Linked DNA regions of Homo sapiens. The protein of the gene in region 1 interacts with the protein of each later gene in a biochemical or structural test. Each region holds a gene or a part of one and is shown on either strand. Other genes may lie near its edges. The genes, in order: NTF4 and LRP1.

Region 1 (4,503 bases):
GCACCCCTAGACAGGACTACTCGGGGGGAGAGAAGGTCCCACTCAGGGGCCAGAAAAGGGGGCAATGTTGAGGGTGGGGGTTGGGACTCAATTGGCACACTGGGGAGGAGGAAAAGGAGGAGGATGGGGAGGGAGCATGAGGGGAGAGGGAGCATCTCTCGGAGCACCTGGAGACAGAAAGAGGGAGGCTGGGATTAGAGAAGGGGGTAAAAACTTCAGTGGGGAAAGAAGTTGGGAACCCCAGGGGAGGCTTGCCTGCCAGGATTGTGGGGAAGCCCTTGTTCTAGAAGTTTGGGGGACCCTATATCTAGGGCTTGCGTAATGCGCAACTTGTAGATTAATAATAAATATTCAACTACTACAGGCCAGGCACTGTGCCCCACACCTCTAATCCCAGCACTCTGGGAGGCTGAGGCAGGTGGATGACTTGAGGTCAGGAGTTCCAGAGCAGCCTGGCCAACATGGTGAAACCTCATCTCTACCAAAAATACCAAAATTAACCGGGCATAGTGCTGCACGCCTGTAATCCCAGCTACTCAGTAGGCTGAGGCAGGAGAATCACTTGAACCCAGGAGGCCGAGGTTGCAGTGAGCAGAGAGTGCACCACTCCCCTGCCACCTGGGCGACAAGAGTGAGACTCTGTCTCAAAAGTAAAAATAAGGCCAGGCATGGTGGCTCACACCTGTAATCCCGGCACTTTGGGAGGCCGAGATGGGCGGCTCACCTGAGGTGAGGAGTTCCAGACCAGCTTGGTCAACATGGTGAAACCCCTTCTCTACTAAAAATACAGAATTACCCGGGTGTGGTGGCGCATGTCTGTAATCCCAGTTACTTGGGAGGCTGAGGCAGGGCAATCACTTGAACCCAGGAGGTGGAGGTTGTGGTGGGCTGAGATTGAACCATTGCACTCCAGCCTGGGCAACAAGAGCGAAACTCCGTCTTAAAAAACAATAATAATAATAAAATAAAAATAAAAATAATTCAACTACTATTACTTAACAGTAACAGATGTTGAAATACAGGCTCAGAGAAGTTAATGATTTGTGCCCGGTCACACAGCCAGCAAATGGCAGAGATGGGACTTCACCTCTGGGCAACTGCACTCTGCCGTCCTTCCTGTGCAACTCTGAGGAACCGACAGTCTTGCATCTTGGAGGATGTTCCAAACAATTTTTTTTTTTTGAGACAGAATCTCACTCTGTTGGCCAGGCTGGAGTACAGTGGCACAATCCTGGCTCACTGCAATGTCTGCCTCCTGGGTTCAAGTGATTCTCCTGCCTCAGCCTTCTGAGTAGGTGGGATTACAAGCACCTGCCACTGTGCCCAGCTAATTTTTGTATTTTTAATAGAGATGGGGTTTCACCATGTTGGCCAGACTGGTCTTGAACTCCCAACCTCAAGCAATAGTCGTGTCCTGGCCTCCCAAAGTGCTGGGATTACAAGCATAAGCCACCATGCCTGGTCCCAAACAAAATTTTTTTTTTTTTTTTTTTGAGATGGAATCTCCCTCTGTCGCCCAGGCTGGAGTGCAGTGGCACGATCTTGGCTCACTGCAAGCTCCGCCTCCCAAGTTCATGGCATTCTCCTGCCTCAGCCTCCTGAGTAGCTGGGACTACAGACTCAAGCCACCACGCCTGGCCACATTCCACAATTTAGAGAAAGGTCACAACCTGGAATCCTAGGGAGACCCCAGTTCACCTCAAAACTGCCACTAAGGAGGTAAAACGCTGCCCCTCTGAGGCAGGCTTCAGTTTCCCTGTGTGTGAAATTGACCTGGCGCTGGGAGAGGCTGGTGGAGGCGCGGATTTTGCAGTTTCCCTACAACATTCTGGAAGCCTGTGGTTCTGGGAAAGGGTGGCGTGGAGAAGACTGGGAAACAGTCAGTAGTTACCAGACCTGTCAGCACCTCCTCCGCCTCGGAGCTCTGGGGCTGGGAGTCCCCAGGCTTCGGGGGGCCCCTGTGGAGGACACAGGTGGCCCCCTCCTTCCTGACATCTCAGGAGAGGGAGGGGGCAACCACCTAGGGGAAGAAAAGAATAGACAGGTTATAGAGGCAGGTGGGGAAGGGGCCAAATCCCTGAACAACCCCTTCCCAGAGTTCCTCTTCAAGTGCAGGGTACCCAAGAGTCAAGGCCCCGCCCCCTTTCCAGAGGCCCCTTTTCTACCCAGGTGATGGCTCCTGGCTGGGATGGGAAGCAGATGGAGGGAGGGGAAGGGAGAATAGGGGAAGGGAGAGGCAGTGGATGAAGGAGGCTGGAAGAGATTACATCCCCCTCGGCCCATTCATCTCCCAGATGGGGCGGAACTGGCCTGGACACCCGGGTCCCTGAGGGCCCACACTCAAGAAGCCCTGGTTCCCCAAGCTGCTTCCTGGAATGTTCCCTCCTCACAGGACAGGCCAGGGCCCGCCCAAGACTTCTGCACATACCTGGAGTGGCTGCCTGCCCTGGCTCCTCGGTACAGGAAAGGGGAAGGGTGGAGAGTGAAAGGAGCCCAGGCTGACCCAACCAGGACCGCCTTCTCCCTCAGACCGAGTAGTGCAGACCCCAGGGCCTCCACCTTCAGACCCAGGAGTTCAGATCCCCAGCGCCCTCCTCCCTCAGACCCAGGAGTAGTCCAGGCCCCCAGCGCCCTCCTCTCTCAGACCCAGAAGTCCAGGCCCCCAGCACCCTTCTCCCTCAGACCCAGGAGGAGTCCAGGCCCAGGCCCCCAGCACCCTTCTCCCTCAGACCCTGGAGTCCAGGTCCCCAGCGCCCTCCTCCTTCAGACCCAGGAGTCCATGCCCCCAGCGCCCTTCTCCCTCAGACCCAGGAATCCAGGCCCCCAGTGCCCTCCTCTCTCAGACCCAGGAGTTCTGGAATTCAGGCCCCTCCTTCTCGGATACTAAGAAATGCAGACTCCGGGTTCCTCATCCTCCAGATTTGGGTTGGGGGTTCCGGACTCCGAGACCCCTCAGGGGAAACCGGCTGCATATCTGGGACACTTCCCTCTTGCCTCAGTTTCCTCCGCCAAGCCCCGCCCCGGTCGGCCCCGCCCCCGTCCCTCCCCACCCGAGGGCAGGGCGACCAGGACGCCGGAATCCCGAGGGAGGAGGAGTGGAGATCTTACCTGGGGCGCCCTCTTCGGCTCCCGCGGCTGCCCTCCGCCCGGCAGCAGCTCCTCCTCCTGCTCGCTGGCTGCAGGGACGCTCGCTGGCCCGCCGGGTGCTAGCTGCTCACGCTCCGCAGGGCCCGGGTCGGGGGCGGGGGCGGGGCGGCGCCGGGCGGCAGAGGAGGGGCCGGGGGATCCTGCCTTGCACTCGCGTGCCGGGACCTTGGAAGCCAGGCCTGGCTCGTTCAACGCGGCCGCCTTGGTCACAGGAGTCCCAGTTTCCAGCTGCCTCCTCCTTTGGACCTAGCAGTCCAGGCCCCCAGCCCCTCCTCCCTTCAGACCCAGGAGTCCAGGCATCCGGCCCCTCCTCCCTCAGACCCAGGACTTGCGACCCCAGCCACCTCTCCCCCCAGCCCCAGGCGCCTGAGTACTAAGCCCACAGTTCCCCCCACCACCTCCCAACCCCGCCCCGTCTCAGACTCAGGAGTCCAGCCCCCAGCCTCCTCCTCCATTAGCCCCAGGAGTCTGGGCCTGAGATTCCTTTGCCGTCTTTTGCCAATTGCGTGTCAATCCCGGGGCAGATTCCCACCCTCTGCTCTCCTCCCCACTTCCCAGGAGCTCCACGCCAGACATTAACCAGCTGGGCTTGGGCAGTGATAAGGCCCCAGGCCCGGGGAGACAGTGGATGTGGGGGCTCCCGCATACTCCTCTCCCCTGGAATTTCCTGGCTGGGGACCGGGGAGAAGGTCTTGTCCTGAGCTCAGATAAGAGACGTGCAAGGTATCATAGGACCAGAGATAGACAGATGTGTCTTAAGAACAATCAGCTACCTTGAGAAATGGTGCGCGGTGACATGAAGGGAGAGATAGGGAGAAGACATGGAAAAGTGGGGAGAGACCAAAAGAAAGAGGGGGACCGAGACTAGAGAGAGTGGGGGAGGGCAGGAGCCCAGAGAGAAGACAGAGGCCCAGAGAGCGTGAGGGCAGACCCCCCCACCCCCCCGAGAAGGGGACAGAGCCCCTGAGAGACCCTGAGAAAGACAGGGATGGGACCGGAGCCGGAGTGTCTCAGGACAGTCATGAGGGCAGCGGGGCTCCTCACCCCACCACACCTCTACCCTGAGACTCCGCTCCCCTCCGCCTGCGCTATTTTCAGAAGGAAAACTGACACCTGCCTCGAGGGTCATCCCACACCCCCTCAGCCTAAATATAGCATGGCAAGGTGGCAGGAGGGTGTCCCCGGTTAGGGTGTTTCCTGCTCCTCACCATCCCAGCCAAGGCAACACACAAGGCCGCTCCAGTTATTTATTGGGGGTGGGGGGAAGGGCCACTTCCCAGGCTTTGGGTGTGCATTCAGGTCACCTCTCCGGCTTCTCCACCCTTCCCCTGTTCCTAAACAGCCAATACATCCTGC
Region 2 (3,800 bases), on another chromosome or scaffold:
TGATGATATCCACACTGTGCAACAGTCTCTAAAACAATGAGGCACACACATAATGTATTAGCATGGAAAAATCTTTATGGCAGTCACTTGAGCTCAAGCAGTTGAGGCTGCCGTGAGCCATGATCATGCCACTGCATCCAGCCTTGGTGACAGAAGACCCTGTCTCAAAAAAAAAAAAAAAGTTGGGGAGACAATAGGAGTCCTACTCTTGAATATGGGCACATCAGAAACTTTGGCAGAAGTGCCAGGGTTGAGGGTGGGTCATCGAGGGCTCCCAGGATTTCACACATTCATGCACAGCTCCCCAGGAGACGCTAACCTTTCACTGCCCTCTCTTCTCCAGCCCTGACTAGTTTCGAGGTGGTGATTCAGTATGGCCTGGCCACACCCGAGGGCCTGGCTGTAGACTGGATTGCAGGCAACATCTACTGGGTGGAGAGTAACCTGGATCAGATCGAGGTGGCCAAGCTGGATGGGACCCTCCGGACCACCCTGCTGGCCGGTGACATTGAGCACCCAAGGGCAATCGCACTGGATCCCCGGGATGGGTGAGGACCTTGCCCAGCCTTCTCCTGGCCCCATGGCCCCCCTGAAGTCCCATTCAGCCTGGCCAGGGACACCTTACTCCTCAGTGCCATCTGCCTCCTCCCACCCTCTACCTACGATCCCACCACAGTCGCTCCCTGAGGGCCCTGACTTTAGCCCTCCTGACCCCTCCCCACTCCCCAGGATCCTGTTTTGGACAGACTGGGATGCCAGCCTGCCCCGCATTGAGGCAGCCTCCATGAGTGGGGCTGGGCGCCGCACCGTGCACCGGGAGACCGGCTCTGGGGGCTGGCCCAACGGGCTCACCGTGGACTACCTGGAGAAGCGCATCCTTTGGATTGACGCCAGGTCAGCACCCTCTGTGCCCTGAGAAGGCCCAAGTCTGTGGCACCAGGACGGGGTGGGGAGGAACCTGTGGTGATGAGGGTGATGAGAAGGACCAAGGGATCTAGAACTAGGAACGGTGGCAAAGGACTGGGCACAGGAGGAGGAGGACGGAGGGGCGTGGGGAGGCCAGGGCCGAGGGGAGGGGGCAGGTAGAGGAGGCGGAAGCAGGGCCATCAGCTGTGGTTATTCACACTGTACCATCCTCTCCACTCACCTGTCCTCTCCACTCTGTTCCCTCTGCTGGGGCTGTGTCTGCCCAGAGGGAGGGGAAACTTCTTTCTAATTGGTCTGCCCAGGGAGGGTGCCTTTTTCTTTTCTTTTTTTTTTTTTTTTTTTGAGACAGAGTCTCGCTCCGTCGCCCAGGCTGGAGTGCAGTGGCGCGATCTCGGCTCACTGCAGGCTCCGCCCCCCGGGGTTCACGCTGAGGGTGCCTTTTTCTGACTTTCATCAAAGCCCTGAGTGCTGACAGCAGCCCTGGGGAGAAGTGACCGAAAGATTCCCTTGGGGCTTGGGAATCGGGGCCTGAGAGGTGAAACCTGGACCTGTTGGGTTCTCACACCTTGGTCCTTCTGTCTGTCTGCTCTGGCCAGCAAGGCTTAGGGGAGGGAATGGTCCCATGCTCTTCGCTGGGAGGGCTGTGGCCAGGGCCCAGAGGGTGGGCACCTGGGCAGAGCTCTGAGGGCTGAGATCCCAGCTGGCATCCTCATTCTGCTCCATCATGCTCTTAGGTCAGATGCCATTTACTCAGCCCGTTACGACGGCTCTGGCCACATGGAGGTGCTTCGGGGACACGAGTTCCTGTCGCACCCGTTTGCAGTGACGCTGTACGGGGGGGAGGTCTACTGGACTGACTGGCGAACAAACACACTGGCTAAGGCCAACAAGTGGACCGGCCACAATGTCACCGTGGTACAGAGGACCAACACCCAGCCCTTTGACCTGCAGGTGTACCACCCCTCCCGCCAGCCCATGGGTAAGGGGCTCGGGGCCTCGAGCAGCCGGAAGGGAGCCAGCAGCCTCTTTAGAAGCTGTAGAAGCTCTTAGGAGAGGAGAGGGCAGTGAGAACAGGAGCAAGTCTGTGCTGGGATGGCAGGGGTAGGCCGGCTGTTGACAGAGGCACTGTCTAGCAGCAGAGAAGGGTCTAGTAGTAGCGGCTGCTGGAACAGGGGGAGGAGAGTGGGCGAGGAAGGGGTGGTCCATGTAGGGAGCAGCAAGTCACAGGATGCTCTGGCTTCTTCTCTTCTCCACCCTGCCCCCAGCTCCCAATCCCTGTGAGGCCAATGGGGGCCAGGGCCCCTGCTCCCACCTGTGTCTCATCAACTACAACCGGACCGTGTCCTGCGCCTGCCCCCACCTCATGAAGCTCCACAAGGACAACACCACCTGCTATGGTAGGAGCCCCTCCCTCCAGAGCCAGTGAGCAACTGAGGCTGGAGGGAAGGCCGCAGGCCCCAGGATCCCGGTTGTCAGCTAAGGCAGAGTCCCAGTCGGGAGGGTCCCGATAGGAGAGGCTCCAGAGACAGCCACTGTGAGAAGGGGCTGCAGGTCTGCCAGGGGGGCTGCACCCAGCGGGGTATGTCCACGGAGCCAAGGGCCAGTAGCAAACAGACGGATCCAGAAGAAGGCAGGGCCTGAAACCGGATTGGTGGGAAGCACAGAGGCAGGGACTGCCTTCAGTGACCAGCCCATGCCCCACAGAGTTTAAGAAGTTCCTGCTGTACGCACGTCAGATGGAGATCCGAGGTGTGGACCTGGATGCTCCCTACTACAACTACATCATCTCCTTCACGGTGCCCGACATCGACAACGTCACAGTGCTAGACTACGATGCCCGCGAGCAGCGTGTGTACTGGTCTGACGTGCGGACACAGGCCATCAAGCGGGCCTTCATCAACGGCACAGGCGTGGAGACAGTCGTCTCTGCAGGTTCTTCCTGGCCCTGGATGCCCACCAGTGGACATGGGCACCTCCACCCGCCCCTTGCTCCCAACCCTGGTCTACTTGGTCCGAGTGGTCCTTCTCCCAGTCCTGTTCCCCCTCAGTGCTCCAGCCTGGTTTCCTGATCCCTTTTCTCCAGAAGGCACACTGGCTCCCCTCCTGACCCACTGCCCTGCAGACACCCAACAACTGACTCCCTACTTGTGCCCCCAGACTTGCCAAATGCCCACGGGCTGGCTGTGGACTGGGTCTCCCGAAACCTGTTCTGGACAAGCTATGACACCAATAAGAAGCAGATCAATGTGGCCCGGCTGGATGGCTCCTTCAAGAACGCAGTGGTGCAGGGCCTGGAGCAGCCCCATGGCCTTGTCGTCCACCCTCTGCGTGGGTCAGTCTAGGGCCCAGGGCCGGGGAGCATGGGGTGTGGGGCTGGGAAGAAGAGGACCCTGACCTTTCCCTCTTGGCACCCTCCCCCCAGGAAGCTCTACTGGACCGATGGTGACAACATCAGCATGGCCAACATGGATGGCAGCAATCGCACCCTGCTCTTCAGTGGCCAGAAGGGCCCCGTGGGTACGAGCTTCCCTGCCCACCCCCACAGCCCCTCCCTAATTCCTTGACCAGCAGGTGCTTGCAGGGTCCTTCAGTTGCCCCTCAGCCTCCCCAGAGCCCTAGCTTAGTGCCTGTTCTCACCATCTGCTCCCTTCCCTGGATCCCCAGCCCTGGGCCAGACTCCCCGGCAGTGACTCCCCCTTTTCCAGGCCTGGCTATTGACTTCCCTGAAAGCAAACTCTACTGGATCAGCTCCGGGAACCATACCATCAACCGCTGCAACCTGGATGGGAGTGGGCTGGAGGTCATCGATGCCATGCGGAGCCAGCTGGGCAAGGCCACCGCCCTGGCCATCATGGGTGAGGGCTGCTGGGCGA

What was found.
Region 2: the proteins of NTF4 (region 1) and LRP1 form a complex in vitro, tested with the Homo sapiens proteins (one study listed by BioGRID).

Annotation. Positions count from the first base shown.
Region 1 is NC_000019.10:49,061,843-49,066,345, forward strand, and holds the start of NTF4 (neurotrophin-4 preproprotein), read right to left. Parts: upstream 2,977-4,503; 5' UTR 1,897-2,976; exon of another isoform or gene 1,774-1,896; intron 909-1,773; exon of another isoform or gene 815-908; coding exon of another isoform or gene 797-814; intron 168-796; coding exon of another isoform or gene 156-167; coding exon 1-155. UniProt on the Homo sapiens protein: Target-derived survival factor for peripheral sensory sympathetic neurons. May promote ameloblast differentiation and subsequent reduction in proliferation of ameloblasts.
Region 2 is NC_000012.12:57,176,698-57,180,497, forward strand, and holds part of LRP1 (prolow-density lipoprotein receptor-related protein 1 preproprotein), read left to right. Parts: intron 1-343; coding exon 344-548; intron 549-729; coding exon 730-894; intron 895-1,661; coding exon 1,662-1,906; intron 1,907-2,192; coding exon 2,193-2,324; intron 2,325-2,631; coding exon 2,632-2,859; intron 2,860-3,084; coding exon 3,085-3,259; intron 3,260-3,349; coding exon 3,350-3,444; intron 3,445-3,632; coding exon 3,633-3,782; intron 3,783-3,800. UniProt on the Homo sapiens protein: Endocytic receptor involved in endocytosis and in phagocytosis of apoptotic cells. Required for early embryonic development. Involved in cellular lipid homeostasis.